2 separate regions of the Homo sapiens genome follow, and region 2 is linked to region 1. Evidence: fine-mapped expression QTL. A gene starts in region 1. The other region holds a variant in brackets. All regions are shown on one strand. Distances are from middle to middle. Region 1 holds the start of HEG1 (heart development protein with EGF like domains 1). Region 2 overlaps SLC12A8 (solute carrier family 12 member 8).

Region 1 (15,734 bases):
CTCCACCTCTAGACTTTCTGCTCCTTCCCTGGGGCCCTGGACACTCTGCCCAATGTTGTGGCATCCCAGGAATTTCCCTGCTTGCTGTGGGGAGGATGTTTCACACTGGAAGGTTTTGCAAAATAGGACTGCTTTATCAGAATCCTGTTGCACCGGAGAATGTTCCTGGCTCATTGATGTTTACAGTGTGTAACCACTTTTATCAAAGGAATGTTGTTTGGAATGGAATGGTCCTCTCAGATGGGCAGACAAGAAACGGAAGGTCATTTGAGGACCTGCCCCAAGCTGTGTTAAGTTGGAGCTCCGGGTTGCTGTGTATGATGTTTGGGAGCCTGGCCAGCCCATGAGCAACCCTTCCTCCCTGGAGGAGGTTCCAGCCAGTTTTCAGAGGAATTGCAGTGTTTACATTCTCACCTTGGACCTGCAAGGCAAACACCCCCGGAGCTCAGCACTGGTGGGTGGAGAAGCAGCAAGGGCTCCCTATGCCCGGGGTCCAGCAAAGAGGTCAATGCAGCCTGGACAAAATGACACTGGTCCTGACATTCCAGAAAGGAGAGAATAAGGCTTCTTCTGGGGGGTTAAAAATAGGGAGATGGGTTTATTCCTTTCGTTCTTTGGTGAAAATCCCAATGCACCTGCTTCTTGGAGCTCTGAACAAAATAGTGCAGATGTAGCCCATGTGCCATGGAGGGCTGGAATTCTGCTCTTCTGTGACATCTCTGGTGCTGTGGGGCCAGCTCTGCAGCTCCTGTCTTCAAGAGTTCTTCATGTACCTTGGGGCAGAGAAAGGGACTGAATGGGAGGCAGAGATGGAGGCTGAGGCAGGAAGGGAGGAAGAGTCAAGAGAGGTCACAAGGTTCTGTTCTTGTGGGAGGGAAACCTGCCCTGCAGCAGGAGAGGGCTGGGGTGCCCCAGCTCTGCCCAAGGATGCCGGTCAGCAGAGAGGAGCAAGTGGGAGAGCAGCTGATGCCGCAGCATACTCTCACTATTGGTTTATCTTCACCAGTCCCCATGGGCCCGTGACAGCGCTGGGCATGCTCGGACATTTCTCTCCCTCTCTACAACCATTTCTAAATGTCTTAATGATAATGGATAGAATTATGTCTCCCCAAAAGATATGTTCAAGCCCTAACTTCTGGTATCTGTGAATGTGACCTTATTTGAAAATAGCGTCTTTGCAGATGTGAATAAAATAAGATCAGACTGGATTATAAGGGGTCCTAAATCCAGTAACAGCGTCTTTCTAAGAAGACCATGTGAAGACAGACACACACAGTGGGAAGAAGACCACATGATGATTGAGGCAGGGGCTACAAGCCAAGGAACAGCAAGCATTGCCAACCACCGCCAAAGCTAGGAAGAGGCAAGGAAGAGCTCTCTCCTGGAGCCTTCAGAGGGAGCATGGTTCCGCTGACATCTTGATTTCAGAATTCCAGCCTCCACAACAGTGACAGGATACATTTCTGTTGTTTTAGGCCACCCAGTTTGTGGGACTTTGTTACAGCAGCTCTAGGAAAAGAATACATTGGTGTTTCTCAAAATTTCAAATCCCTCAGGCCCGCCCCTACATTCCCTCCACTCACAGCAAGTAGCCTCTCTTACAAGTCAAGTCCCCTACTTTACCAAGAAAACTGAAGTCCCCAGAGGGAAGTCCAGGCCCTGCAGTGCCCCACGCTCTCCTCTTTTCCTCCTCCCAGGCCAGTCTGTCCACCTGGGCTACGGAGTCCATCCCCTCCTGCTTCTCAGAAACCTTATCCCATCACCTTTGACTTTCTCCCTCCCACACAGACCATTTTCACGTCCAAATGTTCCCCCTAAAAACAAGAACTCCCCTCTACTCATTCCCCTGTACTTACTGTCCCAGCTCACTCTCCCCCTTCAGAGCCAAACTCTCTTGAAAAGTTATCTCCACCAGCTCGGCTTCCTCAGCTCTCGCTCCTCCCACTGTTCTCCATGTGGATTCTGCTCTGAACACTCCTCTGAAGTCACTTTTGTTATGATCACCAGTGACTTCTATGTTGCTAAAACGAATGGCTATTTTCAGTCTTCACCTCACTTGACCTTTCGGCAGGATTGCACACTGTGAGCCAGGATCTCCTTCCCTTTGCTGGGGTGATGTAACCTTCTCCTGGGTTTTCTCCTATCTCTCAGTGGCTCCTTTCCAGTCTTTTTTCTGGCTCAGCCTCCTCTCCCAGCCATTTCATGTTGTGTCCCCCAGGACTCATTTTCAGCCTGTCTTCTCTGACTATGATACTCTCTTCCCTACTTAATTCCATCCCCTTGTACTCCAAACCTTAAACTTGGACCTCTCCCTTCAGTTCCAAGTCTGCAGATTCAAATAGTTCTTGTCCACCGTTCCCTCTCCTTGTGAATGGTACCACCATCCATCCAACCCATGCAAACCAGAAACCTGAGAAACCTTGCCACTCTCTCTCTCTCCCTCATCCTCCATGTCCATCAACATGTCTGGTGGATTTTACCTACTGCAATCTCTCACATCCATATTCTCCTCTGAATTCACTTCTATTACTCTTATCCAAGAATTATCACTTCCCACCTGGACTCCAAGAGTCCGGGCATGAGTTCTTGTTTCTTTCTAAATTATTCCTCTTATTATAGTTAGAATGATGATTTCCAATCCCAAATCATGTCACCCCTCGCCCCTTAACTCCTCCTCCTCCTCCTCCACCTTCACTGTACTCTACCTTCTCTACTTAACACTTTATAATGACTTCCTTAAACTCTTAAAATAAATAAAAAATCCTTAAAATGAGCTGTTAGGTCTCCCTGATTTAGTTCCTATCAAAGTCTCCAGGCTTACCTCCTTCCATGCTCTTCCTCACTCTCTACCTCAGCCACAATGGCTCTCTTCCAGTCCTTTCCATGCATCCCACTTCCTCCTGCCTCAGGTGCTTTGCATATACTCTCCCCACTCTGCTTCGCCTGGTTAACAGCCTACACAGCTTTCGGATCAGGGCTCAATTTCATGTCCACAGGGAAACCCAGCACACCCTCCTGAGTGCTCTCCTTCGAGCACTTACACATGACAAGTTTACATTTATACTCTTAATTACTGTCTGTCTCCTCCAAACCCTTAAGCTCTACGATGTCACAGACTTGCCCAGCACTCAGCACAGTGCTGGGCACAGTGTAGTCACTCAGTAAATATTTGTTGAATGACTAAATAAAAGAAAGTCTTATGTTGGATTTTGAGGATATAAAGATGAATAAAGCACAGAGCATCCCAGAAAGCACCTTGTAGATTGAGAGTGGGAGGGGACAAGCAGATGAGAGGATGAGTAAACAGACTCAGGGTTTAATAGGGTGATGAGCAGATAACAGAGAAGCCGGCCAGATGCCCCAGTGGAGACAGTGATCTGTGGGCCCAGCCTACCTGTCCCTAGGTGAAACTCAATCCAGGGGTCTATTAACTGATCTGTCAGCCCTCAGGGACCCGTAGTCACCAGAGTCCTGAGTGTCCGTAGGATATTACTGCTGTGCATCTGGCACTGCATCCCAGCCATGGCAATGCCAACCCACGTGAAATCCTGCACAGGCACCATCCTCAGGAACTGGGCACACCGTGGGGCCAGGTTAGAATGCAGTGTTATAAAAGGCTCTGGCTACAATAAGGGCATCATGCAGAGCACTTTAGTCAGAAGAGTTCCTGGTGCCTTCTGGTCAGTGATCTCATCATATCCTCAGGACAACCCCAAGAGGCAGCAGAGGGAAATGATTTTTCTCCCCGCTAGGCAGCTAAGGAGACAGATCAATAGAGATCACCTGACTTGGCCAAGAAATGAGAATCGCTTTGGAACAGAACTTAGAGAGAACCCAAGGTCCTCTCTGTCAAGTCTACCAGTCAGACCAATCAGCAGAGGAGGCCTCCTCAAGCTGCAGGTCTGCTGTGGCAGGAACCTGCACAGTTTGTTCACTTTGGTGTGGAAGGACATTTCATGGCCCCTTCACACCACTGAATGTTAGATTAGATGGGCCTTGAGAGATCATTTGATTCAACACCCTCATAAAGAAGGAAACTGAGACCAAAAGATGAATCTTTTTACTCTCCCTTTCTTTCCCTGCCCTACTGATATCTAGAGGTAGGGCAGAGATGGTTAGCGGTCTACCCAAATCCCTTCTCCCCTTCTTTGCCTGTATGGTTAGACTACATTTCCCAGCCCCCTGTGCAGTTGGGTGAGCCATGTGACCATGCTCTCTCCAGTGGAATGTAAGAGGAGATGAGGCACTTCCAGACCGGGCCCACCAAAACCTCCTCTGCTCACACCACCACATTCTTTTCACCTCTGGCTGACTGGGATGCCAATTCCCAGAGCAACTTTGGAAGCCATACTAGAGTATGGCAGAACCACCATAACGTGGATGCATAATGTGGATTCTTGTTCCTTTAACAGCCTTAGACACTGATGTTCAGCTCAATGGACAGCTTCTTCACACAGCCTACTGAGCTGAACATCGGTGTCTAAGGCTGTTAAGGTAACAAGAATGAAACACATGGTGCTAAGCTGCTGCATCTGGGTGGCCTATTTGTTACTATAGCCTAGCCTAGTCTGATTAACACAAGTAGAGGCAGGAAACCCCTGGCGAAAGCTCTGACTACATCAAGTTTCAGGTGGCAAAGACACTGGGCTCCCTGCTGATTTCACTGTCAATTACATTGGGGTGCCCCCACTCCTACCTGTGGAGAGGTTAGGAATGCCTGTTAACTCACTCAGTCCTGGAATTTGTTCTGGGCTGTCTTCCCACCTGTTTTATCCTAGATCAACAGATTCCCAGGGCTGGAATGGGTCTGAGAAGTCGTCTGATTTATGACCCTGGCTCCAGATAGGACCTCTCAAGCTATCTGAGATGATCAAGAATCTTGTCTGGATTTTCATATCCCTGGGAAGAAAACACTACAAATGTTCTTAGATAACTGTTTTAGTCTATGGCTGTACCACCCTAAAAGTGCCTGATATTTTCTGATCTCAGAAACTAAGCAGGCTTGAGTCTGGTTAGTACTTGGATGGGAGATACCTATTTCATACCTCCTTGCTACTGTGCCAGAAGTTCTTTACTGAACTCTAAAACATCAGAGCTAGAACACTCCTTAGCAATCATCCAGGACCATCTTTGTTTTAGAGATTGGAAACTATGGCCCAATCACACAATTAAACAGTGGTAAAGGCCAGAAAAGAAGCAAGGGCTCTAGGACCAAGTCAACTGTTCTTTCCAAGGTTCTATACTGCATCCAGTTCTCTCTTGCTGTCTTGCTGTTTTCTCTTGTTCTGCCTTAGGAGGAGAAGAAAAAGAGCTGAAATCCATCTACACCTTGATCAATCTTTCCAAGTTCTCCCTGTGTGTCCCTCTCCTAATCTGCTTGTTAAGCCCTTTCTAGCTGACAGTTACCCTGAACTCGGTCATTTCTCTTAGAAGGCAGAGAGAAGATTAGAGAGAGATAAACCTGTGGTACTTAAAGTGGGGTGGGATTGGGGGGTGGGGGAGGATTGGGGGGAGGTGGCAGGTACATGTTTACTCCTTGGGTCTTAGTAGAGAAGGCAGATTATCTCATAGGATCCCTGAATCCACACGAGAAGCCTGTAAGGGCCATTCTACCCTTAAACCTTTCCACTTGCCTGGGAGTGCAACCAGTACTATGTGACATGGTCTCCTTGGAGGGGAGGGAGTGGCAGTGACCAGAACCTCTGAGCACAGTCCTAGTCTGTTGGGGCTTGTCTGGCTGGGTCTGGGCAGCTGTGCAGTCCTGCCTGTTAATGTGAGAGCAGCATCCAGAGAAGTTAAGCTCAGGCCATGGGAGCAAACCAAGTCAGTTTCAGGGAGATTACTGTTTGGTACTTTCTTGGAGAGACCTGGAAGTTCTGTGTTAGAGCCCTGGAAAGCTGGTTTGTTTAAAAACAAAACAAAATAAAACCAAATCTTTACTCCTCATTCTCTCATTTAAGGTGAGTTTGTTTATACACAGCCTCCTTTATGTTTTTCTGCCAAATGACTCACTTGTACTGAGTCACCAGAAAGTGGGCCTAGGCCCATCTGCAGCTGCCCTGGACACTACGATCTCATTCTCCTGGAGGTGGGTCATGGAGATCTGGAGACAGAGAAAAAGAGAAGAGCAGAGAAATAGGATGGAGAGCCAGGCCTGACAGTGAGGTGCATACTCATATTTTCACGAGCATTTGGTTGTCAGACAGGGGCCCCCAACAGAACTCGCAAGAACCCCAAGGAGCTGCAACATTTGTTTCTGTTGCAATACTATTTGTTTCCGTTTGCGAATTATTGCAAACTCTGAATTAGGAGACCAGAATTAATAATATCACATGGTCATTCACAGATCAATCATTTCGTCTTCGGGTCTACCTTCAGAATCTTGAGCAAGTTATTTTCCCATTTGAGCCCCTCTTTCTTCACTTAATGAGGTGGCTTACAGTCCTAAACTTTAGACAGTTTATTATTCATTTACTGGGGAGGGAGAGGTTATGGAAACAAATGGAACTTTATTGACCAAGAAAATTTGTTTACATGAAATCTTTGAATCTTTCCCCATAGGTTTCCATTTAAAATTCTGTGTTCTCTGGGCATCATTTGGTTTAATTTGCGATCTGCAGTTCTTTTCCTGATGATGAGTTTGCCCTAGCCTGCCTGAATTCACAGTTTTCTTTTCCCTGCAGCCTGTTTGGGTGTCCTCGCGGTGACATCTCTGCAGAACTCTGGTGTGAGCCAAAGGCAGTGGTCGGATGGGAACGGCATCCAAGCTTGAGAGGGCGTGGGGGATACTCGGATTCTCGCGTTGGCCGGAGGGTGAGGTGTTAGGTTTGGCAAACACGAGCTCATCACCAGCCCTGGGGCCTGAAGAAGGGGAGGTGGGGGTGGGAGTGGGGACACTTCAAATCAATAACGGCGGTGACAGCGCGGGCTGGGTACCAGGGGACCGTTCCCTTTCTCTCTCCTATCAAAGCACTTGGGATAATCTAGTCTGGTGCTAATCACATTACCCAGGACCTGCTTTTCACCTACTTCTTGTGCGTTTAAGGAGTTGGGTAGGTGGTGCCCGATTCAGAAGACTCTGGAGCATGTGTGTGACAAAAGTTGCAGCACCGTGGCTCCGCTGACCTCATCCCGCTGTCCCGGGCCGGGCCGCTCTCCAGGCGCCCGGCCCCAGCCCCCTTCCTGCCCTCTCCCCGCCTCCGGGCCCGCCGCGCGGGGCCGGTGATGTCAACTGAGGAGGAGCCGCCCGCCAGCCAGCGACCCGCCCGGGCTAATTAGCATGTAGCGGCGCCGCGGGCCGCCTCCGCCCAGCCAGCCCGGCCCCCGGCAGCCCTCCCGCGGCTCCCGATAACTTTTGAGGCGGGGAGCGCGCTCGCAGCCTCACTCCGCTCACTTCCCCGGCCCCGCGCGGCCCCCGCCGCCCGCTGCCCGCTGCCCGCTGCCCTCGCCCCGCGCGCCGGGCATGTGAGCGCGGGCGGGCGCCGTCACCATGGCCTCGCCGCGCGCCTCGCGGTGGCCGCCGCCGCTCCTGCTGCTGTTGCTGCCGCTGCTGCTGCTGCCGCCGGCGGCCCCCGGGACGCGGGACCCGCCGCCTTCCCCGGCTCGCCGCGCGCTGAGCCTGGCGCCCCTCGCGGGAGCGGGGCTGGAGCTGCAGCTGGAGCGCCGCCCGGAGCGCGAGCCGCCGCCCACGCCGCCCCGGGAGCGCCGCGGGCCCGCGACCCCCGGCCCCAGCTACAGGGCCCCTGAGCCAGGCGCCGCGACACAGCGGGGACCCTCCGGCCGGGCCCCCAGAGGCGGGAGCGCGGGTGAGTGAGAGCCGGGAACCTGGCGCCTGGCCAGTCTGTGCTGGGGGCGTGGGCGCGCCCCGGGCTGCATCCCCAGCCGTAGGCCCCTCCGCGCGGCGCGACCCAGGGTGGGGGCTCCTCGCCCGGCGTGTGCGGGACCCTGAGGGTCGGCGGGTAGGGAGGGACGCTTTCGCAGTTGGCTGGACTGAGGGGTGTGACTATCCCGTTCTCCTCCAACCCTTTGGAAGAAAACTTATTTCCTATGGGGTACCCTGTATCTCTTCCACCCCACTTTAAAAAAAATGGAAAGGAAAGGGAAAAAGACTGCAAAGCATCTCTCCCACCTCCGATATCTGGCCAGCCGGTCCCCAGTTTCATTTTTTCCGCTATACAGAACTGGCCTCTCCAGGTACAGGGCTCGACTTTCTCATCTAAATAACTGATTTTTAAGGGGTTCTAGGACGGGATATTGTAAAGGACAAAGGATGTACGTAGTTTGAAACAAAACGCTCTACTGGTTCGACTTAAAAGCAAAGGAACGCGGTTGGGGTTGCATGGTTGAACCCCTGCAAGGCACAGGCTGATACAGGACCATCCCTGAGCCTCCTCCCTCCCCTTTCCTTTCCCAATGAACTGTTGCTCCGTGGTAGCCACCGCCTGTCCCACGCAGAGAGAAGGAACTGACCTCTTCTCCCTGCTACCTTTGTGTCCAGTTCTTTCTTATGATCTGGAAAAATATGCCACATACTGAGTGGAATTCTAACCATAATACCATTATGACCTTGGGACTGCTGTCTCTTTGCGCTCACTTTCTCCATCTGTGAAATGAAAGTGATGATCCCTGTTCCTTCTAGCCTCCTAGTGATGATGTGACAAAATGAAAGTAAAAATAAATGGAAAGTGCTTTGAACAAAGTCAGCAACGTGGTGGTGTTAGCCTTTGCCTTCCTGTGAGTGACACAGGGCATATGCTCTGTCCGGGCTATTCAAATAAGCTGGGTTGCTTGCAACACTGGACATTGATTTGGAGTTTCCCTGAAAGTTGAGTTTTTTGTCTGCATAATTGACAATTCATTTAAGTTTCTCATCTCATGCAGACTTTCTGGCACGTGAATTAGCTTGCTTCCTCCAACCTAGAGGTGCTTCTTAGAGTTAAATAAGAAAAAGTTTGGATTTTTAAAAATCAAGTTCTCCTGTAAAAACTCAATTTCATATTCAACAGTATTCCCATTATCGCAAAATGCCTTATTTTGTGAATTTTTAAATCACTGGCATAAGATTGAGAAACCGAGGAACAGTAAGAAAAGGGAGAGGAGAGATAAGCTTCTGAAGACGTGTAGGAGACACATCCCGGAGTGACTGTGACTTTAGATTACTTACAGCATACGCTGTTTTGCTAACTTCCACGGGAAGGAATCAAGAACATAAAACAACATATTTCCCGACTTTCTCCAACTAGGAAAGTAACTGAGGAACACTGTGTAGTATTTTGTGAGTTTTTCTAAACAGAAGGTGAACTGCAGAGAACTGAGAACATTTCAGAGGAGACACCCAAGAGCCGAAGGCAGATTTCTCTGGGTAGTAGTCAGGCTGTCTTAGCTGAATGGCCTCCATCTTGTTAGGGGATAGGTGGGAGGGACACTGACTTGCAGGGGCCCTGGCTGGATGGGGCAGGCACATGAGTCTCTTTCCTTCTCTTAGGGGCGGGATCTCTAGAGAGAGGTAGGTATTACAGGTATTACAGAGAGGTAGGGACAGTGGAGGCAGCTAGCTTAGAGGACTCAGCTGGTAAGAATTGGGGCCTTATGTGACCCAAACATCCCTCACAGGTGTGGCAGGTAACACTGCTGGTCTTGGTTTTGTGGCTTTCCCAGTTTGATTCCTTTGCAGAGGTGAGTGATGGAGGCTTCAGGTATATGAGGTACTGGAAGGAATACATGTGAGAATCCCAGAAAGCAGCGAGAGAGTAGTTGGAATAGTGTACACCTTCTCTTACCTAGGTAGGTTCTCTTGGTCTCCTGGTGCCCCACAGACACCACCCAAGGAGTGCCTCCTCTTCAGTGGCTCAAAGGCCCAATCTCTGAAGGGATGTTAGGAAGGTGCGATTAGAAGAGATGAAATGAACACCTGTTGAAGCTGCTAGAAGCTACTCATATGGCCAAGGATCTAGGCATGACCTGTGCTTTTTTTTCTGGTAGTGGCTCAAACAGTATCATTTAGGGGTAAAAAAGAAACAACACATAAGAAAACCAGTGTTCAGTGATTTCAGTGAGTCTGAGTTTTCTGATAACCAGGATTGGGAGCCTTTTGGATGGGTCCTCCTGTATCACTAGATGCTATCACTCATTTCACAAGGCAGCAAGGTCTCAATGCTGAGAGGGCCTCCACAGGTCCTCCAGTCTGCAATGTGTCCCATGCAAATGTCTGCCCCTCCAGCACCCCTGACAGATGGTCATCCCGGCTCTCCCTCAGCATTTTTGTGTTTGGGGAGGCACCATGCTACTGTCACTAACAAGCCCTGAGTCTTACAAGTAACGTGCTCCATTTGGTTGTTGGAGAAGCTTCCTGCAGGCCTTTCGTGCCATGGGGATGCTGGTAGTCAGGGCCTGGCCCCTGGGACTTCCAAATACACTGATGTCAGCAGCAAGGGCCACAGATGTCCTTTTCTTCCCTGTGGGCCATTTCCAGCTCTTCTCTTCCTGGCAGAGTTCAACTTCTCACTGCTGAGTAACCGCGTTTGCATTCCATTATGTGGATTGTTTGCCTGTATTAGACTGTAAGTCCCTGGAGAGCAGCTCCCTGTTTATATAGCCATTGTTAAGCTTTTGCACCCACCCGTCACCCTGCTGGCTGTTCAGCTGATGTTTATTGCTGGTGTTTCAGCCAGTGGTGACAAGATGCTGAGACCTAGAGGTTTTCTTTTTCTGCGTGTGTTTTTCTACCACTCAGGACTTCCGAGCCACAGTTCTAAGCTGAATGCAAAGTTTATATGCCTTAATTTTGTGATCCATATGCTATGCTTTAATTGTGAGATCTGCAGATGAGAGGGAGAGAAGGCTTAAATCATAATGAAAATCAATGCAGAAGGAAAGAACTTTCCCACCCAAAGGGGAAATGACGCTGAGTAGCTGAGCAGCCAGCCCGAGAAACAATAATCTTAGAAAAATGCAGCTCCCTGGAGGAAAGGAAGCGCTTTGAGCTGAGCCCCGTCTGAGCTGTTAAATAGCTGTCGCCTGAATTGCTCTAACTTTGTGGGCCAACTTCGTCATTTAGCTTGGCTGCTGGGAGAACCATTACAAGGTGCAGCGGGCAAGAGACAGCCCCTCAGGGAGGGGAGAGTGGCTTCCCTCCAGAAGGCGGCTACCTCACTCCTGGCGGAGGCTTGGGGGTGGTGGTAGTGGGGATTCCTGAGAAGCCTGTTTGCTTTGATGGAGGGTGTCCCAAATAGAAGGGGGGGAGGCGGGAGGGGGCAAGGGACTCTCCGTGGTGCATGAGTGTTTAAAAGCCACATCCTTTTTACCTTGCAAGAACCCTTTTATTGCTTTCCTCAGCCTGTGTGCACATGCTGAACTGTTATGTTTTGCCAGAGACCCGAATGGTGTGGACTGAGGGAGACTGAAAGGTATTTGCTGCCCAGCTGGGCAGTTTCTGCATCCTTGTCCTGGAGGCTGGGGAAGGAGCCTCTGCCCTCCTGGTGATCCCTCCTGCCTTCCAGCAGCCCCGCCCAGCTGGCTGAAAACAGTGTTCCTGAATTTAACTTGTCCTTGTCCAGAGACACTCAGAAAGAAAGCAAAGAACAGATGGCAGTTGTGGTTTTGTTAGCCACTTACTGCCTTCTTCAGTGGCTTCCCTCTGTCTCCAGCGTCCTTTTTGTATGAATGGGAGGTTTCAGCTGCAGTAAATATTCTCTTCCAAGAATCCTGGGGAGGCAACAAGGAAGGAAACTAGTTTTGGGGTCTGACTTTTGACTCCCTGGCCTTTGAACACGTATGTGTGGTCGGCGCCTTCACACTCCTTATCCATTTAATCCTCAAAACAAGCCCGTGAGGGATGTTATTTGCCTTTTACAGTTCTGGAAACAGTAGCCTGGAGAGGTTAGATCACACGGTAAATGGAGGCGGCAGGATTTTAATAGATTTTGACCAAATCCATGTGCTTGTCCCACAATATCAGGAGGTCTCAGTTTTCTCATCTGTAAAATGGGGTACCAGTTGTCCTAGATCTCTAAGATCCTCTCCTGCTCATCATTCGTCTTCCTCCCTCCCTCCATTCCTTGCTCTTGCTTTTTTGTAGAGATTAGGGGCCAGCATTGGCGTGGGGAAAATATGAGGAGATGGCAGTGGCAATGAGGACACCTATTGAGTAAAAATTTTTTAAAAATTTTGTTTGAAATTACCTGAGACAAGACCACAAGTCTTTAAAATGACATTTTATATAGAGATTGTAAATTATGCCCTACTCATATGCCAATCCATAGGTTATTGATGCCAGAGGTTGCTGCATTAATTATAAGCCAAGCTGAAATGAATTGGTGACTTTCTTAATGGGCCCTCTCCTGGGAACGTGGAGCAGTGGCTGACATTGTGAGGCAGTTGTTATGAATACCTGCCCAGTAGGAGGCGAGGTTAAATGGTACTCCATGCAGATGCTGTCAAATTGCTTTCATTTGAACATCTATGCTCTCTTCTACCCACTCACCATTCATCAGGCATAGACAGAAACAAAGACATTTCTATCCTGTTTTTTCACTCTTCTTTTGTTGGAGTGTGGCAGATGCCTCTATTTGTGTCACATTGGACTGATTTGTAAATCAAGATATATTTACAGAAGCCTTGCTATGTGGAAGAGCCGTGTGAGGTGATGAGGTTGCAGTGCCTGTCTGTGATGCCCCCAGGGAACATTCAGTCTTGTTGGAGCACACACATCAAGATTGTAAAAAGCGAAATAACGATGCATGAGTGATTCACAACTGAAGAAATGCCACAGGAGATCATACTGACCAAAGGAATGGTGAGGGTGGAAATGGGCTGCTGCATGCAGACGTGGAGACCACTGGGGGCTGGATAGTCCAGGGAGACTTCAGTGGGAAAGGGGGGAGTTGATTTAACTTTGAAAGTTGACTGGGATGTGGATAGACAGGGAGGTGGAGGATGGGCTGGGCATGATGGCTCACGCCTGTAATCTCAGCACTTTGGGAGGCCAAGTCGGGTGGATCACTTGAGGTCAGGAGTTCCAGACCAGCCTGGCCAACATGGTGAAACCCTGTCTCTACTCAAAATACAAAAATTAGCTGGGCATGGTGGCATGTGCCTGTAATCCCAGCTACTCAGGAGGCTGAGGCATGAGAATCGCTTGAACCTGGGAGCCGGAGGTTGCAGTTAGCCGAGAGTACACCACTACACTCTAGCTTGGGCAACAAAGTGAGACTTCATCTCAAAAAAAAAAAAAAAAAAAGAGAGTTGGTGGATGAATGGCATCCACAAAATCCCAAATATTGAAAAGCCCAAGACTTTTCAAAAGGGAGGTGATCAACAGTCAGTAAGGCTGGAGAAAAGGACTTGAAGAGGCCAGTTAGGCTCCCAAATCAACTAGTCATTGAAGACAAGACTGGAAAGGAGGATTAGACCTGATTGTGGAGGGCTTTAGAGGCCTGTTAAGGTGTTTGTTTTCATCCCATCCACACCAAGGAGCCCCTGATGGCTTCTGAACAGGGAAAGCATAATTAGCTTGTTCATTTCTGCTTGGAGCTGGGGCCTCATAGATGAACCACATACATATCTGCCCTCACTACAGCCCCGTAGTTGTTTAAGAGACACTGGAATGCTGGTGGGCATCGTATTGATGTGTTGGGAGGAAAGACTGAGGACAGAGCATGGGTTAGAGTGGAGGTAGTGGAAATTGAAAGGGAGAGATGCAAGGGCCACTTAAAAGAGTAAGGCTGGAGTAGTAGACTGCCTGGCCACGGGGATGATGGGACAGAATGGAGAGGAGCTCTTTGCTTTTAAAGGGGCTCCTTCAGTTTCAGCCGTTCAGTGTAAAGACTGCATGTCCCCTTGGAAGTATTCTGTGGATGGTTGAGAATGTGGAACTGAACTAGAGGGAGGCCGGGGCCAGATTCAGCCCTGAGGGGCAGTAGTTAAAGCCACGGAGGAAGAGGAAATCAGCTCCAGTCAGGTGGAGAACATCCAGTATGGATGGTGGGGAGGAAGGGATGCCAGCCCGGCATGAGGGCGCAATGAGAGGTGGGGGTGGCTTGCAGGTTGGCTGTGGATTGGCAGATAATCTGAATATAGCATGGTTTATGCATCATATGTGGAGGTCTGTGAAGGTCCATGTAAGTTAACATATTTCTGCTTTCTGTCTTGATTTGTCCTCTCATCTGGAAACTATCCAAGTTAAAAGGCAGAGGGAGACTGGGGAGAATGAGGTCTGGGGAAAGGCCTCTGGCCTCCATTCTGAACTGTTTAGTGGGACTCCTAAAAGTGCAGGAAGAAGCCTGCCTACCGTATGATAGGCATGGAAGGCCTGTCTGTGGCAAAGTTTGATGGTGAAATAAAAGAGGAAAATCAGAGAGAATCAGAATCCTTGATTCTCATCCCCTAACCCTGTGTCAACTCCTGCCTCTTCCCATGTCGGCAGTTAGCAACAACATGCACCTAGTTCCTTAAGCTAGAAGCCTAGAAGTCACCCTCCATTCCTCTCCTTTCCTCACCCACTACCGTGATTCTTTTTTGGCAACTCCAGGTGATCCTGTTTCCAGAATACATGGTGAATCTGCTCTCTTCCTCCCCACTGCTCTTTTCTGTTGTTTGCATCCACTTATGCTCTCTCTCTAATCTGTACTCACAGAAGCCAGAGTGATCTTCTTAAAATGTAACTCAGGTCACCTTACTCGGAGGCTTAACACCCTCAAAGAGCTTTGCGTTGTACTTAGAATAAAATCCAGACCCCCTAAATTGGAATATGAGGCCTGCAGGATCTGACTGGCCACCTCTCTCACCTTCTCTTGCTCTGCTCTCCACTTACACCAGACAGTTGTTAATACATGCCAAACTCATTCCTGTCTTGGAGACTTGGCACATGGCATCCCCCTGCCTATAGCAGCAAGAGCCTTCCAGGCAGGGGGAGCAGCCAGGGCAGATGATCTAAGGCAGGACCCAGCTTGCCTTGTCTCAGGATTGGCAAGAAGGAAGGCCAGGGTGTCTGGATCACCCAGGGCCATGAGGACCATGGTAAGGAGGTCGATTTTCCTCTAGGTGCCGTGGAGGGTCCTGCAGCAGGGTCTGCACCACCACATGGTATGGGGCTCTGGTTGCAAGGTCTCTTAAGGAGCTGGAAAGACCATCTGCAAAGTCTAGAGGCTATTAAAAATGGACAGTTTCCTTTTGCTTAATATTTTAGCTCTGAGGTACTTGAACTTCATTCTAGCTTTCATGTCATGTAAACGTTTTTGAGGAAAGCTTACAGGTCAGATGGCATGGGAGGCAGACAAGACTTCAATCCCAATTCCTGGGATGTCTCGGGGGACTTGAGGGAGGATCTGACCTCACTGAAGACCCTGAATAACAGGAGCCCCCATCTATCTGTGCAGAGAAGGTGCTGAAGGCAAAGAAATGGATTTGATAAGTTGACAAGTTTCTTCTTGATGTCTCTGATAGGCTGGGAAATGAAGATAGGGGAGGAAGAAAAGTGACAAGAAGAGGGCAGAGGCCAAGGTGAAGCTCTTCAGGTGGCCCTGCAGTTCCACCTTGGAACTGAAGAATCAAATTGGAGGAAGGAGTAGCAAGAGGCAGGAGAGAGACACCTGCTTGTCATCTGGAGGGAGGTTCCTAGTGCAGGGCTGTGACTAGTGATTATCATATGTTGGGCTAGAATTGAAAACCACTCCATTTTCCTTTTCTGGGTGATAGGAGATGGAAACAGCTTCAACTTGGGGACGGGTTTCACTCCT
Region 2 (15,734 bases), 90 kb before region 1:
GCACTTTGCTGAGTGACTGACTGGGAAACACACCAGAGTGGATCAGCATCCAGTGAGGCAGATGGATGGACACAGTCCTAGGAAACGTAATCTGCGCAGCTTGTGAAAGTGTGATGAGAGTTGCAGGAGAATGGAGTTGATGGAACAGATTGTCAGAGCACTGTCTCCAAAGAAGAGGAGTGGCAGGGTGGACGGAGCGCCTGGCTGCACACACACCTGTTCCGCCTCCCTTTCTTTCTTCCTCCCATCCTCCCACCCTATAGGTAGTCATCAAAGCCTACGGGGTGCCAGGAGGTAGGCTTTGGGATACAGCGGAGAATAGGATAGCGATGGTCCCTGCCCTCATGAAACAGGGAATCCATGTCAGCAATATATGCTTTTCTGATTAATGCTATCAGAACACATGCTTCTTGTTAGCCGTGTGGCTGTGGGCAAGTCACCGAAACCCTTTGAGTTTGTCCATCTGTCTAATGGAAAGAAATACCCTCCTGGAAGAGTGTTTTTTAAAGGATTAGAAATAATATGTCCAAAGTAGTTATTTTTTCTTTGAGTTTGGGGGGAGGGGTGGTTCCTTCTCTCTCTCCCCCTGCCAACTGTTTTCTAGAAAATCAGCACTTACTGGATATTGTAGAGAATAATTTTGGGGTTTTATTATTTTGAAGACGGTTTCTTCTGTTAAACTTCTTCCTGCATCCTCTTGAACTGGCAGAAATAAAAATGCTAGACTTTTAAAGATATGACACTCTAGAATCCTGATTGCTAAAAATGAAAAGCATTCTAAAGTAAATAAAATAACAAATTCAAACAGTAAATCTGTAATGACCGAATGAGCACCATTTTAAACTCACACGTACCAGAGGTGATCGTGGTATGAGGAATGAGCATGGTACATTCTGAAGCTCCTGAAGTAATCAAGGGACTTCTGTTATGGCCTAAAGCAAACAAACAGCCACCATACAAACCTATATACATTTCTATTTCTTTTCCCTCAAATTTCTACTTGAAGCAAAAGGAAAGTCACTTCTTGCTTTCTCTGCCCCAGTAACTGTGGGTGGCAGCCAGTTTTTGGAGCAGTTCTGGAGCAATTACTCTGCAATCCCAAATTCCTAGTGTATGAACAAATCTGCTCAGACATTATCAGGGAAGAAATACTGGAACCTGGATTTTAGTCCTGGCTCTGCCACTTTCTCAATCCTTGACCTTGGGGAAATCACCTAAGCGTCAGTTTCCTCCTCTAGAAAATAGAGAATAATAATATCTGCCTCACAGATTATTTAGAGATTAAATGATGTAATAAAACGTATTTCCTCAATTCCAAGTCACCATCAATTTTAATTCACACCAAATTTTCAGGTGGAAAAAAGCCTTACATTAAGTCCTCATGTTGCTTGTAAGACATCCAAATTTCAGAAAATCAAAATGTTTTTAAAAAGTTATACTCAAAATGAGCAACTACTATAAATACGATTGCCTTGGCAAAGGAAGATTCTAAATAAACGTAAGACAGTCTTGTTATCGTGGTCATCCTCCCTGGGCGGAGGATCTGCAATCTGTGCCTGGGTTTCCCTGTCGCCACCACTCTGCTAAGCAGCCGGAAGCAGGGCTGCCCCTTCAGCATTTCTCTTGAGACCTACCGCACCCCCTCACAATCCCAGATCAGATGCCAAAGCCAGTGGGGACTGGACAACATGATGAGCCCAAACCAATCCACGCTGAGCTTGGCATCTGATTTGGGATTCTCCACCTTGCAGAGAATCGGAAAGTATCTCCACAATTTCTTTTGGACCGAGCTGTTCTTCCCTTTCCATGAGTTTCTTTTACACCTGACCTAGAGCCTCTCAACCATTTTTATGTCACTGCACAGCCAGAAAATGATAATATTTGTACAGCACTCCAGGGAAAAGGGAGGAACAGTTGGGCCAAGAGGCCAATGACTTCACCATCTGGAACCCATTCAGGGCATTCCAGCGTGGCCCACCTTCTCCAATTAGCCTCCTCAATGAAAAAGAAAGAGGGGGAGGAAGAGGAAGAGAAAAGAAGAAGAAAACCCTGGTAATGTTCACTGTTTTTTGCTTTAGAATTATAAGGGCACTTTAGTTTTTCGAAGCGTCTTTATGATAATGGTCTGGTATAGTGATCAAAATACCCTTGGGCTTGAAGTGCCATAAACAAACAAGTTGTGATACTTGCGTGTGTATCAGAATCCCTGAGGAAACTTGGTGTGTGTGTGTGAGCGCGTTTCCTAATAGCCTGAGGCCCGGGAATCTGGATTGTAAGAAGTGCTCCAGGTAGTTTTTTATCATGATTTTTAAGTCAGCTCTGGGAACTACTGTCTTCGAGGCCCTTGGAAGGTTTCTCCTGGCACTCTACCTTTCATGTTCTGCATTGCTCATTCTATTTTCCCCTGTAAAGGTAGCCTTTTTGATGCAGTAGTCCAAACCTCGTCTTGCGGTGCCCTTGTATATGTGCTCAGTCCTACCCCCTAGTGTACAAGAATCGCACTGCAAGGAGTAGATAATCAGCTGACCTGTGGGACCAGAAGCTCAGCCTCTCAGGCTTGCAATGTTCTCTGAGAACAGTGTGTCTCAGCGTTTGGTTTGGAGATTTCCTGTATCGGAATTATCTAGAAACTCATTAGAAAAACAGTCTGATCCATACTCTCAAATTTTGGACTAGTAATCTACATTTTAGGTAAGCATACTGGAAATTCTTATGTACATTCAGATTTGGAAACTACTACGTATATGGGATTTACTAATCCTATTGATCTGTAAAGGGTTAATTTGACTCACACATTGTTACCTGTCTTTGACAGGCCCCTTACTGCGAAATAACCATCCATGTACACAATGGACCCCTTGGAGTAACCAGCCTTGCTTCCAATATGACTGTTGGGGTAGTAACCAGGAGAAGGTGCTTAGGCCCTAAATTCTGTCACTGAAGCCAATGGTATGATTAAAGCTCAATGTGAAGACTTGAATACAACACATCCCACCCTCATTTTAGTTTCATCTGGCAATTGAGGTGTTTTTGCTTTGGCCATTATGGGTCTCCCAATCAGAGTGGAGCTTCTAGAATAAGTATTTTTAACATAGAGTCCTTGAGCCCCTGAAGTTGCATGCAAAATTGTATGTAAATAAGTGTATTTTTCTAGGACAGGGTTCAGAACTACTGCCAGATTCTCAAAGGCATTCTTGACCTGAAGGGGGAAAGATTAAGGATTAGAACAGAGGTACTTTTCAGGGTTAGAACAGTGAAGAATTATAAACAAAGGCTCATGTCCAGGTAAGGATTTCTGAGCCTCTGCAGACCAAGCCTGACCAATTGTCCAGCATTCCCCAAAATCCACCTGCTCTCCCTCCTCTTTTCTTTGTGCCTCATCCTTTCTTCCTTTATGCTTTTCTCTCTCTGTTTTTTCTCCCCAATCCTTTTGTCTCTCTTTTTCCCCTCTGCCCCCACTTTGCCATCTCCCCATCCCTCCTCACCTTCCATTTCTTCTCTTTCTCTCCCTTCCTGGCCTGAATAGGAAGCAAAGCATGTTCTTTGACTTGTTCTACCTGTTGAATATTTTCAATATTCCACTTATTTTATGTTGGTGGTTCTTGTTTGTAAAATTATGTGAGTTGCACATTTAATATTTCTCTGGCTAGATGAGAAACTAATGCTTTAGGCATCCTTGTTCCTTGATTGTTTGGATCCAGCCCTTGTTAGAAGGCTTTCTGTGGGCAGTGGTCCCCATCACCCCTGGCCAGCAGCAGGCATGCCTTAGGCCTCCCTCTTGTTCTGAGATTGATTCTGATGAAGAAAAACTGACTGACCAGAATCCCAGACCCCTGGCTCTGAGCCCCTACCCTGATCCCAAAACCCAGCTGTCTCTACTGGATTATTCTCATTTGCTGGCTTTGGCTTGGGGATCAGAGAAAGGAGCCATGGGCTGAAGAGGCCGTGGGACCTGGTCAAGTTTGCAGAAGGAAGTGCGAGCGAGCGCTGCCCAGCTTCGACCCCCGAGTCTGCTCCCACTCTGTGACTCTGTGAGCAGGAGGGATGGGCTGGCCCGACTCCCTGGCTGGGCGTTCCGGGTATGGATGCCTGCCACATGCAGTCACCAGCTGGGGAGGGCCCTTCCACACTTCTGAGCCTCGCCCGCCTCAGCCCTGAGCAGCTGGGAGTTCCGAGGAAGCGATGGGTGACCGCTGAGGGGTGGGCCGACACATCCTGCCTGTGCCCCCCCGCTGCTGGTTTGTGTTCCTCTCACTGCACGTGGCAGGTGTCCCCTGGCTGTGGGGAATTTGCAGATTACTCTCCATGTGACTGTAGAAGCGTCCCTGAAGGCACTTCTGGCTTCACCATTTTGGGGGTACCTCCTGGGGTAGGAGGCAGGATGGTGGGTCTGTATAAAGCACAAAGTGGGATATGTGCCCTCAAGTCACTCACATTTGGGTGGGGAGCAAGGCAGCCAGCTACAGACCCAGAGAACAAGGCAGGAAGTCCTGGGCTGACAGTGGGCATGCAGAGAGTGGGCTCTGTGGTGCGAGCAGCCTGTGAGTGCTGGCCGAGGGTTGGGGGTGGGAGTGAACCCAGAGGTGGAGCTGGCAGGAGAGTGCCGCCTCCTGAGGCTGGCAGGAGATGATGCCCCAAATTGCAAATTTGAAAGTTAAATAATATACAAAGGACCCACGTGGGCCCCCCACCCCACTCTTCTCCCCACTACCCTCACTCCAGGGCCCAGACAAGGCCAGTGCTAGAGCTTCCAGGCCTGCTCGCAATCCAACTTACATGTCCCTCTTGCCTGGATCTTCATGCTCCCTGGGGACTGAGGCATGCACCTTCATCTTCAGGGACGTGTTTTGAAGAAATATTGAGGCCTCTGCCACAGGGTTGACCTAACCCCAACACATAGGTGCCCACACCCCAGGCCAGCACTAGGCAATGGGGCAGCCTCTAGACATCTCCCTGGGGATTGCATTTGCCTTTAAATCTCTGGGCCCCATAGCGAGTTGGCAAGTGGCTGTCCTTGTTGGCCTAATGTGAAAGATTGCATCACATATACTACAGTTGTCAGAGACATGGCTTTGGAGTCAGACCTCCAGGTTCAAGCTCCAGCTCAGCTATAATTTGCTGCATAGAATTGGTCAAGGTAGTTAACCTCTCTGACCTGCTCTCTTTGTTTCTGAAAAGCAGGTAATAACGCCTGCCTCGCTAGGTTGCCAAAGCATAAAATAAGATAATGTTTATAAGAGGCCTAGTGTCATGCCTGGCACAAAGTAGGTGCTCAATAAATAATCATTGTCATTATCATTGCTTGTCCTGGAAGAGTAGGTCCCTGGAGGCCCTGGGTTATACTCTAAGGCAGTGCTTCAGGATCTGGGGATCTTGTTAAAATGAAGGTTCCAATGCCGCAGGTTGGGGACCATACTTTGCATAGCAAGGTAGTTTCCTGGGGCACCTCAATCACGTTCAGTCAGGAGCAGCAGCATCCTTTCTCCTCCTCTTGCTCTCCCCTCGTGCTCTCTGGGTTGATCAGTCATCAAAACACTTCCCAGGCTGTCCAGGCAGGATGTAGGGCAGGATGTATGGTCACTGGACTCATCCAGCACCCCAGTGACTGCAGCCACCTGCGGATGAGGAGGGGATCCGGAGGGAGGAGGGAACTTGTCTCTGACCTTGAGGATTCCTAATCTGACGGGGAGATGGTACAAACACACCTCACTCTCCATAAGCGCCTGCAGAAAAGGCACACAACGGCTTGCAAAGGAACACACAGAGGCACAGGAAGGGGCCACTTCTGGTTTTCTCCTCTCAGAGCTAGAAGGCTGAGAGCAGAGTGCCCCTGCCAGCCCCACAAAGGGAAGCGGAGTGCAGCCTGAAGCTGCAAGGTCAGGTGATATGGCAGTAGCCCAGGGCAGCCCGGGTTAAAGGCACACTCACTCAAGGCCGGCTCTCATTTAGTGGCACCGCAGGTTAAATGCTGCTCCCAGGCCTTGGGTCCCAGTGACCAGGAAAGTTTTGAAAATGAGAACATGTGTTGACCCTAGGACTAGGACAACAGCGCCCTTGATTTTGCGGAAGTCTTCCCTGGAAGTTGGGCGTGCTTGATATTGAGACGCTGCACTTTGTGTTTCTTGACGGCTTTGCTGCAAATTCTCACACACCTTGCCCTTGAGTAAAACCCCAAGGATTCCAGACGTCGGCAAACTCCCGAGCACAACGGTCCTTTCCACCTAAACCCCTGAGCACACAGTGATTTCTGCCTACATTGGTGACTGGTGGTCAGATGGCTTGCTGGGCAGCTTCCCCGCCCTGCTTCTCGTGGAGGAAGGGCCTCCCTGTGGTGGGAAGAGGTGTTCCCTGTGGCAACAAACAGAGACCTTGTCTCTACAAAAAATGTACAAACTTAGCTGGGCATGGTGGCGTCAGCCTGTAGTCCCAGCTAGTCGGGAGGCTGAAGTGGGAGGATCACTTGAGCCATGGGAGGTGGAGGCTGCAGTGAGCCGTGATCATGCCGCTGCACTCCGAGGGAGGCCACAACTAGTAGGCAGGGCCTGTGGCTCTGTCCTCACCTTCCACCATCCTTGGCCAGGAAGCCCCCTTTGTCCTCTATTCCCACATCTGTACGGCAGGGAGGAGCCCAGGCCTTAAGCAAGGATGCAGGGTGCCATCTCTGAGGATCCCTGGGGAGGGTGCTGTGGAAAGAAATGGCTTGAGGTTTTGTTTGATTGTTTGTTTGTTTGTTTTGTTTTGTTTTTTATTGTGGTAAAATATCCATAGCACACACTTTGCCATTTTAACCGTTTTTAACTGTACAATTCGGTGGCATTAGTTACATTCACACTGTTGTGCAATTATCCTAACCATTTGCGTCCAAAACTTTGTCATCACCCCAAACAGAAACTCCGCCCCCACTAACTTCTGTTCTATGATACTTTCTGCCTCTCTGAATTTGCCTATTCTAGATATTTCATAGGCAGTAGTTCCCCTTATCTACAGTTTTGTTTTCTGCAGTTGCAGCTATCCACGGTCAACAGTGGTCCAAAAATAGATAAAAATAGTATAGTACAATAAGGTATTTTGGGCCAGGCGCAGTGGCTCATGCCTATAATCTCAGCACTTTGGGAGGCTGAGGTGGGAGAATTGCTTCTGCTCAGGGGCTTGAGACCAGCCTGGGCAACAAAGTGAGACCCTGTCTCTACAAAAAATATAAAAAATTAGCTGAGCATGGTGGCGCCAGCCTGTTGTCTCAGCTAGTCAGGAGGCTGAAGTGGGAGGATCACTTGAGCCGTGGGAGGTGGAGGCTGCAGTGAGCCGTGATCGTGCCACTGCACTCCAGATGGGGTGACAGAGCAAGACCCAGTCTCAAAAAAGAAAGAAAGAAAAGAATAAAAAAGATATTTTGAGATGAGGGAGAGAGACCACATTCATAAAACTTTTATTATAATATAATTGTATTTTATTATGTCATTGTTGCTAGTCTCTTACTGAGCCTAATTTATAAGTTAAACTTGATCACAGGTATGTATATATAGGAAAAAACATAGTATATATAGGGTTTGGTATTATCTGCCATTTCAGGCCTCCACTGAGGGTTTTGGAAAGGATGCCCTGTGGATAAAGGGGAGCTACTGTAAGGGGAATTATACAACATTTGTCCTTTTGCATCTGGCTTCTTTCACTTAGCATGAGGTCTTCAAAGTTCATCTGTGTTGTAGCATGTATCAGAAATTCATTCCTTTTTATGGTGGAATAACATTCCATTGTATCGATATACCACATTTTGTTTATCCATTCATCTGTGGATGGACATTTGGGTTGTTTCCATTGTTTGTTATTATTAATGTTTTATATTTTTTGCATGTCCCCTGGGGCTAGGTGCCAGAGACACCCCAGAAAATAAGAGAGCGTGGTGCCTGCCCCCACCTGGCTCATAGTCTAGTGGAAAAAACAGGCAAGTAGCCAGCCAGTAACAGCAGAGAGATGGGGACCCATAGGACATATTGGACAAGGGCTTGGCCACACTGTGTTCTGGTCTCCCCTGAGCAGCTGCTAACTTTGTGACGTGGGCATCTCCTTTCTCAGGCCTCAGCTTTCCCATCTGTAAAATGGATTTGAGGCTAAAGACTGCTGTGATGCTAACTTTCTACAGTTCTATGATACTGAATCTTTAGCCATGGCATTCTGAGGGAGGCCCTGCTTTGTTTCTTGGGTAGGACTTGGGGTGGGGGAGAGCTGCCCATGGCCTCAGAACTTGGTGGGGAAGGGGTCTGAGCATGTGAATATTTTCAGCCTGGTGCTTGGCAGGAGGGGGGCTCTGCTTACATATCGGTGTGTTGATACTGACTGCCCCTTCCCTGCAGGGGTCACTTGACCTCCCACCCCGTCTCAGCTGCCTGCCTGGCGAGGATATCCAAGCAACAGTGGGGCAGGGAAGACTTCTTGACCAGCTTGGAGCTGTGCAGGGGCAGCTGATTTGAGGGGGCCATGAGTTGAGTTAGGATTATTTTGGGGGTGTCAGGGGTCAGGAGTTGAAGCATGGGAAGTGGGATGCCAGAGGCAGAGACAGCCAGAAGGAATAAGTGGTGGCTGGGAGGAACCCACAGCCAGGGTGGAGACTTCCCGTTAAAACAGCCCGTTATCCTGGCAGGAGGGAGAGTGCATTCCTTTCCCCCAGGAGATAAGGAGGCCAGATTTTCCTTTCTCAGGGCTCCTTTCTAGGGTAGGCTAGTGGGGGCTCTGTGGGCTGGGCTGGGGCCAGGTCCCTCTGGACCCCTCTGCAGGGTCCCAGCTGGAGCAGCTGGAGCTCCTGGCACTCATCCAAGACTCCCTGCAGCCTTGGACAAGCACTGCTGCAGCAGTGGCAGCACAACGTTTGAATCCCAGTTGCCTCTCTGTGCCTCAGTTTCCTTCCCTGAAAAAAATCCATCTACCTCATAGGGTAGTTGTGAGGCTTCAATGAGTTAATACGGTAAAGCACTTGGAATGAGTGGTATGCAGCGGAAGTAGACAGCACTGTTCTCACCCCAAGATGCCTCTTGTTTCCTGGGGCCCAGGTGAGAACCTAGTGTCTCCTCAAGTCAGATTCTTTTCACATTCTTGGGCATTTGACAGCTCTTTCCGCTGTAGGCCTCTCTAGGCAAAAATCTCATCTCAGCTTACTGACCCCAAGGCCATTATGAGAAAAG[G/T]TTCATTAAGCATTTAAAATAGAGCCCGTGTTAGCAGATGGAACAATTTCTTGGTTATTAGAAACCATTCTTCATGAAGAAAAGGCTTATCTTTCCTTTCACAAATGAGGAATCCTTAGCTCAGAAAGAGCCCCGGGACTGCCCTCCTAGACCGCAGGGCATGGCAGGAGCTGCTCTTGTTATGGGACACTTTCAGCCCCTTCCCTCCCAGGCCAGGGAGGCTGCCCTGACATCCCCCAGTCTGGCCTTTCATCCCCTGGGTTGCCCAGCCCTGGGGGTCCTTCCCACTGTTTCACAACAGCCAGTCCTCCCACAGGGTGGAGGCTCTCCCCATGGCCAGGCAGGGCTCTAGGCTGCTCCTTTCTAGGCAGGCTGGGCGGGACTCCCCTGGCCCTCTGGGCAGGTCAAGCCCCACTTCAGATTTCCCTTCTGGCCACTGTTGGAATGCCCAGCCCTCCCTCTGTGTATTTTCTCTCTGGGTGGGGTCTTAGGCTGGAAACCCTGTGCACATCCTCTCTCCACCCTCTCTTTGCAGGACCAAAGTCAATAGGGCTGAAGCCAGAGAGGAGACTGTGGTCCGAGGAAGACTCCAGGCTCACGCCCAGGACTCTTTGGGGGCCTCTTCGAAACCTATCATTATTTCCTCTTCCAAATCTCCAGGCAGTGATCAATACAAAGCAATACAGCCCGATTCAGTTTAATTTCAAAACAGTCCAACGCAATACAGCCGATTCAGTTCTATTTCAAAACACTTTTATTGAACACCAATAGTTGTACCAGGATTGTTATGACCCAGTTCAATGGGAGAGCCCAACAGATTGGGACTTGATACTATCTGGACTCCAAACTGTACTCTCAATTAGGGTTACTGTTCCCCTTTTGACTCTGCGTGTCTTTTGAACAGTTGGCTTCAGCTCTGCACTTCAGTTTCCTCAGTTGTTAAAACAGGCCAATGAATTAGACCATGAAGGTTTCCTCATCTCTCTGCCCTTCCATGTAATCTCTCATTATCGGCCAGTAAGGTTTTATTAACATATGGAACTGTGGTAGTGAGCTTGTTTCACGGTTCTGGAGCACATCCTGTATCAACAATCACAGAGTCAGGGAAGGGAGGAGGGCATGTTATGGAAGCTGGTTTGGGATTTTACCTCTGCCATTGGAAACCAACTGTGTATTTGGACAGTGTGTCCTGAGAGGCCTGAGAGTGGGCTTCTGGCTGGGAAGACTTCAGAATTAGAAGGGTTCTGAAAAATCATCTCGTACTGTGCTACTGAGAGTTCGATCTGCAGGCAGGAGCGTGGCATCTCCGGGGAGCTCATTAGGAAGGCTGGGTCTCTGGCCCATGCCGGTCTCGCTGACTCAAAATTTGCGTTTCAAAGCTCCGAGGGAAAAGGGCTTGTTTACAGTCCCACAGTGAGTCCTCGCATAACCAGGGCCCGAACCCTGGTTCCTGATTCCTGATTTTGCCACTGTTCTTGCCTTCCTCCACCCAGAGATCTTCAGGGTCCTTGTGCCTGGAAGGGGGCCCTGTGCTTCACGCCGAGGGAGGATAAGCATGGCAGGGACTTCTCCCAAATCTATCCTCCTTGAGTTCAGTTTTGACTGGGCTCCTCCCTGATAACCTGTAACTGCTTCACCCTTTGCAGCTCCCAGAAGAAAAACCCCATCCCCAGCCCAGGGAGGCCAGGCCTGCTGTGTTTAATTGCCCATCTCTGTGCCTCTTAGCCCATCTGGGGCTGGGCAGTATCTGAGTGAGTGTCCGGGCGAGGATGGGGCTGCTTGGGAAGGAACTCTTGTGGGTGACAAGTGGCAGGATGGGGCCCGTGGACACTCCCCTTCCTCCCCTTTCCGCGGACCCCCTGGGTCAGGCAGTTTCGGATTGGCTGCAGATCCCCGTCTCCGTGAGGCCGCGTCTGGCGAGGTACAGGTGCTGAGAGGCGCTGGGCTGTCCAGAGGCGGCGCGCGAGGCCGGGTGCGAGGTCTTGCGTGCGCGCCGCGCCCACTTCCTTTGCTGAGGAGCCTCGCGCAGTCTCCGGGGCCTACCACTTCCCCCGACGCCCTTCGGGCGTCGTCGTGCGGGTCCCTTCCCAGAAGCGGCCTCTCCTTTCCCTTTCCTCGCAGAGCCGCTCTTCCTGCGCCCTCCGAGCCCCACCCTCCTAGCTCCGTCCGGAGCCCTTCCTCCGCGCTGGCTATTCTCGGTTGCGCCAGCCTCTCCCATTGTCCATTCGCAGGAAAGGGCTGTCTGGCTGGTCGTCGGTCGCTGGTCCAGGGGTGGGGGACCCAGAAGAGAGCGCCGCCGGAAGCCCCCGCCGCGGCAGCAGCCCGCAGCCCGCAGCCCGCAGCCCGCAGCCTGCAGCCCCAGCATCATTTTTAGAAATCTCGCTTTCTAAGTTAGTCAACAGTGCAACCCGACGCCCACAGGGAGGGGTATGACTTCCCGACTCCCTCTTCTAATTTCAGCAGCCCCCAGCGGCGTAGGGGGAGGGGATGTCGGGGGCACCGCAGGTGCCACCCAGAGCCCCTAGCAGCCGCCTACCCAGGGCAAGGGTCCCATGCCCGGCTGCTGGGCACCCCAAGCAGCCCTGCTGGAGCAGTTCTCAGTCCCACTAGTGACCCCCGCTGCCTGCCTTTGGCTAAGGGGAGGAGGGTAGGCTCCCACGAGCACCCCTTGGGAGCAGATGGTGGGCCCTGAAGAGCCACAGCCCACTGGCCGCATCACAAGAAGCCTGAATTACCCGAATTCCGGGTGGAAAGATCAAGCCTTTCTGCAGACAGAGCTTCAAGGACTTTCCCTCTGCCTGTTCCTGCCTGGGTCTTGTTGTCATTTGTTCTCTGTCTTACCCGCACCCCACCCCACCCCCCTTTTTGTTTTTGTTCTTCCTAAAAGCATACAGCTCAAACTGGACCAAAGTATTTTTATTCCGTGGATAGAGAAACAGATGTTCAGGTCAAACCCAGATCCATTCACACGCAGCAGCTGCAGGCCCCATGCATCCCAGGCCTTCGAGAGTTGAAAGATGTCAGATGACAGGACCCCAGACCACAAGACTCAGTTTCACCAGCAGAGGAATTGAAAGCCCAACAGAGAGGCAAAGAGACTCTTCTGAGGTCAAAAAACAAGTGTTGGAAATCCCTGGGGAGGCTAGACGTGGTGGCTCACGCCTGTAATCCCAGTGCTTTGGGAGGCCAAGGTGGGAGGGTTGCTCGAGGCTGGGAGTTTGAGGTTGCAGTGAGCTACGATAGTGCCACTGCACTCCAGCCTCGGTGATAGAGCGAGACCCTGCCTCTTTAAGAAAAAAAAGGAAAGAAAGAAAAGAAAAAAAAAAAGGAAATTCCTGGGGAATGACTTTGGGATGGATTACAGAGGGTCAGTGTGGTAGATGGAGGCCTGAATTCACTCAGATGTGGGGTCCAGGACAGGCTGTGTCCTCCCAGCTGTGTAAGCTCCAGCCAGTTGCATACCGGTAGGCACATGGTGTTCCACAGGATAGGACTCCTGTCTGCCCTACACAAATGGGGCCGGGGGAGATGCCATGATCTCTGTGGGCATGTTTCCTGGGGCTGAAAGGCAACCTGTGCTGTAAGGGGGTGCAGTGCCAGGGCCTGGGAACCCACCTCCTGGAGAGAGGCCTGGCTTCTGCCACCGGGAGAGGCAGTGGGTGAAATACAGGCAGATCTGGCTATGTAACCCTCGGACAAGCTTTTTCACGTTCCGGAGCCTCAGTGTCCTCAGTTAGTCATCGTACAAGTATGACATTGTAAGGTCTTGTTGTTCAGTGGCTGGCACGTAGGAAGGGTTCAGTCACTGGTCGCTCAGCATTATTTTCAGAAGTGAGGTTGCCCTGTGGTGTCCTTGGAGTGACCTGCACAATCTCTGTGCACACAGTCTTGGCCATTGCTTGGCAAGGACTGTGGCATGAAGACATTATTGGCTATGTCACTCTCAGGGCTGCTGTCCACTCTGAGGCAGGGCATGGTGGCAGTCAGGCCTTGGGAAGTTGTAGGTGCCTCCTGGCGGGACAATCTCACGTGCAGATGTAGCTGCTAGAGTAGAGGTCTCGAACCTTAAGGTCCATGCTCTCCAGAGAGGCTTCAGAAATCTGCCCTTCCCCAAAATGGTATGCAAAATGTGGTGTCTATGGGGACAGGGACCATGGTATTCATCAGACTCTCAAATGGGGGCAACTAAAAGAATTAGGAACCTTTGTTCTGGGCATCAGCAAGTCAGGCATTAAGAGCCACTGTCGGAGGGCATGGCAGGCGGCATGGACCTCAGCCCTACCCTGGGTGTGACCCACTGACCTCACACCATGCTTAGCTAGCCAGTACCGGCCAGTCAGAGACATGAGTGCCTCCCCTGGGCACCCACTCTGCATAAGCCCAACAGAGAGTCAACCATGCCTGAGGTCTGGGTGGGCCACCAGGTTCAGGGTGTGGGAAAGAGACCCAGGCCCCAGCAGGCAGGATGGGGACCAGTGAGCAAGACTCTTTGGGGACTGGCTCAGGACAGGGGACCGTGAGGTGGGGTGGTGATAGGTGAGGGGTGCAAGTCATGAGGGCCTGGGAAAATAGGGGCAGAGGAAATGAGGCAGGGTCCACTGTGCCAGCTTTGGGGGCTCCTTGTTGTCCACTGGAAAGTGGCCCATGTGAGGGATGGGCCACCAGATCCAATGCCCTGCCTCAGTGCGCTTGGTCAAAGAGTTAGAAAATTCTCTCTGAATAAGGCCTCAGACTGTGGGTCATGGAGGTACGACTGGGGGTGTTCTCACCCTCTCTCTCTTTTGCTCAGTTTCTTTCTTTCTTTGGTCCTTATTTTATTTTTCCTGTCTTGTTTATGTTTTTCTCATAAGCCACTCAAGTCATTTTGGGAAACAGAGTACAAACGGAAAGAAAGAAAAGCTCTTCATACATAGAAAAGCTGACGAGAAAGTGGGCTTTCAATTGTGGGATGTTTTGTTTGTTTTCCTAAAAGATATTTTTTGATGACAAGTAGATTATGTTCATTTAAAAAAATTATTTTGTCACCCAAACTGGAGTGCAGTAGCATAGTCACAGCTGACTGCAGCCTTGACCTTCTGGGCTCAAGTGATTCTTCCACCCCAGCCTCTTGAGTAGCTAGTACCATGCCCTGCTAAGTGTGTGTGTGTGTGTGTGTGTGTGTGTGTGTGTGTGTGTGTGTTTTGTAGAAGGGGTCTTTCTGTGTTGCCCAGGCTGGTCTAAAACACCTGGGCTCAAGCAATCCTCCCACCTCAGCCTCCCAAAGTGCTGGGATTGCAGACATGAGCCACTGCACTCAGCCCTTTAACTTAAATGTGGATGTTTTGTAGAAATAAAAAAAGAAAGTACAAGAATTGCCTGTAATTGCATTATACAAACAACCACAGTTAGTATTTCGGTGTGTTTTCTTCTAGCTGTTTCTTACATGTATAGATTAATACACCTTTTTTTGTATTTATACTATGGCATCCAGTTTTCTGAATTAGCATATAGTATATATAACATGGACAGTTTTCTCTTATACTAAAAACTCTTTATAAGCATTTAAAATGTCTCAGTTCCACATAAACATTTAGAACCTCCTCTGATTTTTTCATTTTTTATTTATTTTTAAATTTTAAAAAATTGAGATGGAGTCTTGCTCTGTTGCCCAGGCTGGACTGCAGTGGTGCAATCTTGGCTCACTGCAACCTCTGCCTCCTGGGTTCAAGCAATCCTCTCGCCTCAGCCTCCAGAGTAGCGGGGACTACAGGCACACCCCATCACGGCCGGCTAATTTTTGTATTTTTAGTAGAGATGGGGTTTCACCTTTTGGCCAGGCTGGTTTCAAACTCCTAATCTCAAGTGATCCACCTGCCTCGGCCTCCCAAAGTGCTGGGATTACAGGCGTGAGCCACTGCACCCGACCCCTCCCCCGATTTTACATTATTGTAAACAAAGCATTGACACATATTTTTGTCCATAGCGTTCTTTGCAAAGTTAAGACTATTTCCTAGAGCAAGATTCAGAACTGAGCTTGGCTTCAGCCCAGAGCAGGCTGGGCCAGCAGTAGTGTGAGTGTGAGCGTGTGAGTGTGAGCGTGAGTGTGAGCGTGAGCGTGTGAGCGTGAGCGTGTGTCAGCGTGAGTGTGCACTTTGTGAATGTGGCAGGGCTGCATTTCTCATTGGCCCTGCAAGAGATGGCAACTGAGGCAGGCCCACGAGGGAGCCAAGTGACTCATTATCTCAGCCTGTGGGTCTTGCTGAAGGGATGGGCAGAGAAAAGGCTTCCCAGTGACTCATCTATTGGGCCTGAAATCCCTCTGAACCTTCAGGCTGGCCAGGGCAAAGCCCTTCAGGCCCAGTGACCAAATATTCCCCTGTGTCAGGGCCGCCCTTGGGCCCTTGGAGATGAATATGCCTGATGAAGTGTTTTCTGTCCTGCGAGGCGGGCCTGCCGGGCACACACAGCCCTCCGCTCAGATGTGCTTTCCGACCTGCACATTAGTCCAGCTTGGCTGAGCTCGGTTCCAAGGCAGGCTGGGCTGGTTTTCTCCTCCTTAAGACTCATCAGTGAGGTCAG

What was found. PIP is the estimated chance that this variant, and not a neighbour inherited with it, causes the effect.
Region 2: its variant is fine-mapped to the expression of HEG1 in whole blood (INTERVAL, PIP above 0.99).

Annotation. Positions count from the first base shown.
Region 1 is chr3:125,047,646-125,063,379 of GRCh38, reverse strand. It overlaps HEG1 (heart development protein with EGF like domains 1), which reads left to right and starts at 7,383. Exons shown (of 17, transcript NM_020733.2): 1 at 7,383-7,805. The coding sequence starts at 7,490. DAGARR (differentiation and growth arrest related lncRNA) reads right to left here and starts at 1,969. Exons shown (of 2, transcript XR_007096044.1): 1 at 1,857-1,969; 2 at 1-1,509. It also overlaps the pseudogene RNA5SP137. RefSeq lists enhancers at 6,820-6,869, 11,413-11,542 and silencers at 7,120-7,499, 7,580-7,669, 7,730-7,889, 11,223-11,272.
Region 2 is chr3:125,137,467-125,153,200 of GRCh38, reverse strand. All of the region lies in intron 5 of SLC12A8 (solute carrier family 12 member 8), which reads left to right. It overlaps MIR5092 (microRNA 5092), which reads left to right and starts at 1,649; the gene lies at 1,649-1,736. RefSeq lists enhancers at 4,271-4,360, 5,491-5,550, 5,961-6,030, 9,087-10,040, 10,611-10,840 and 5 more and a silencer at 11,391-11,620. The variant G/T (reference allele first, on the strand shown) is at 9,177.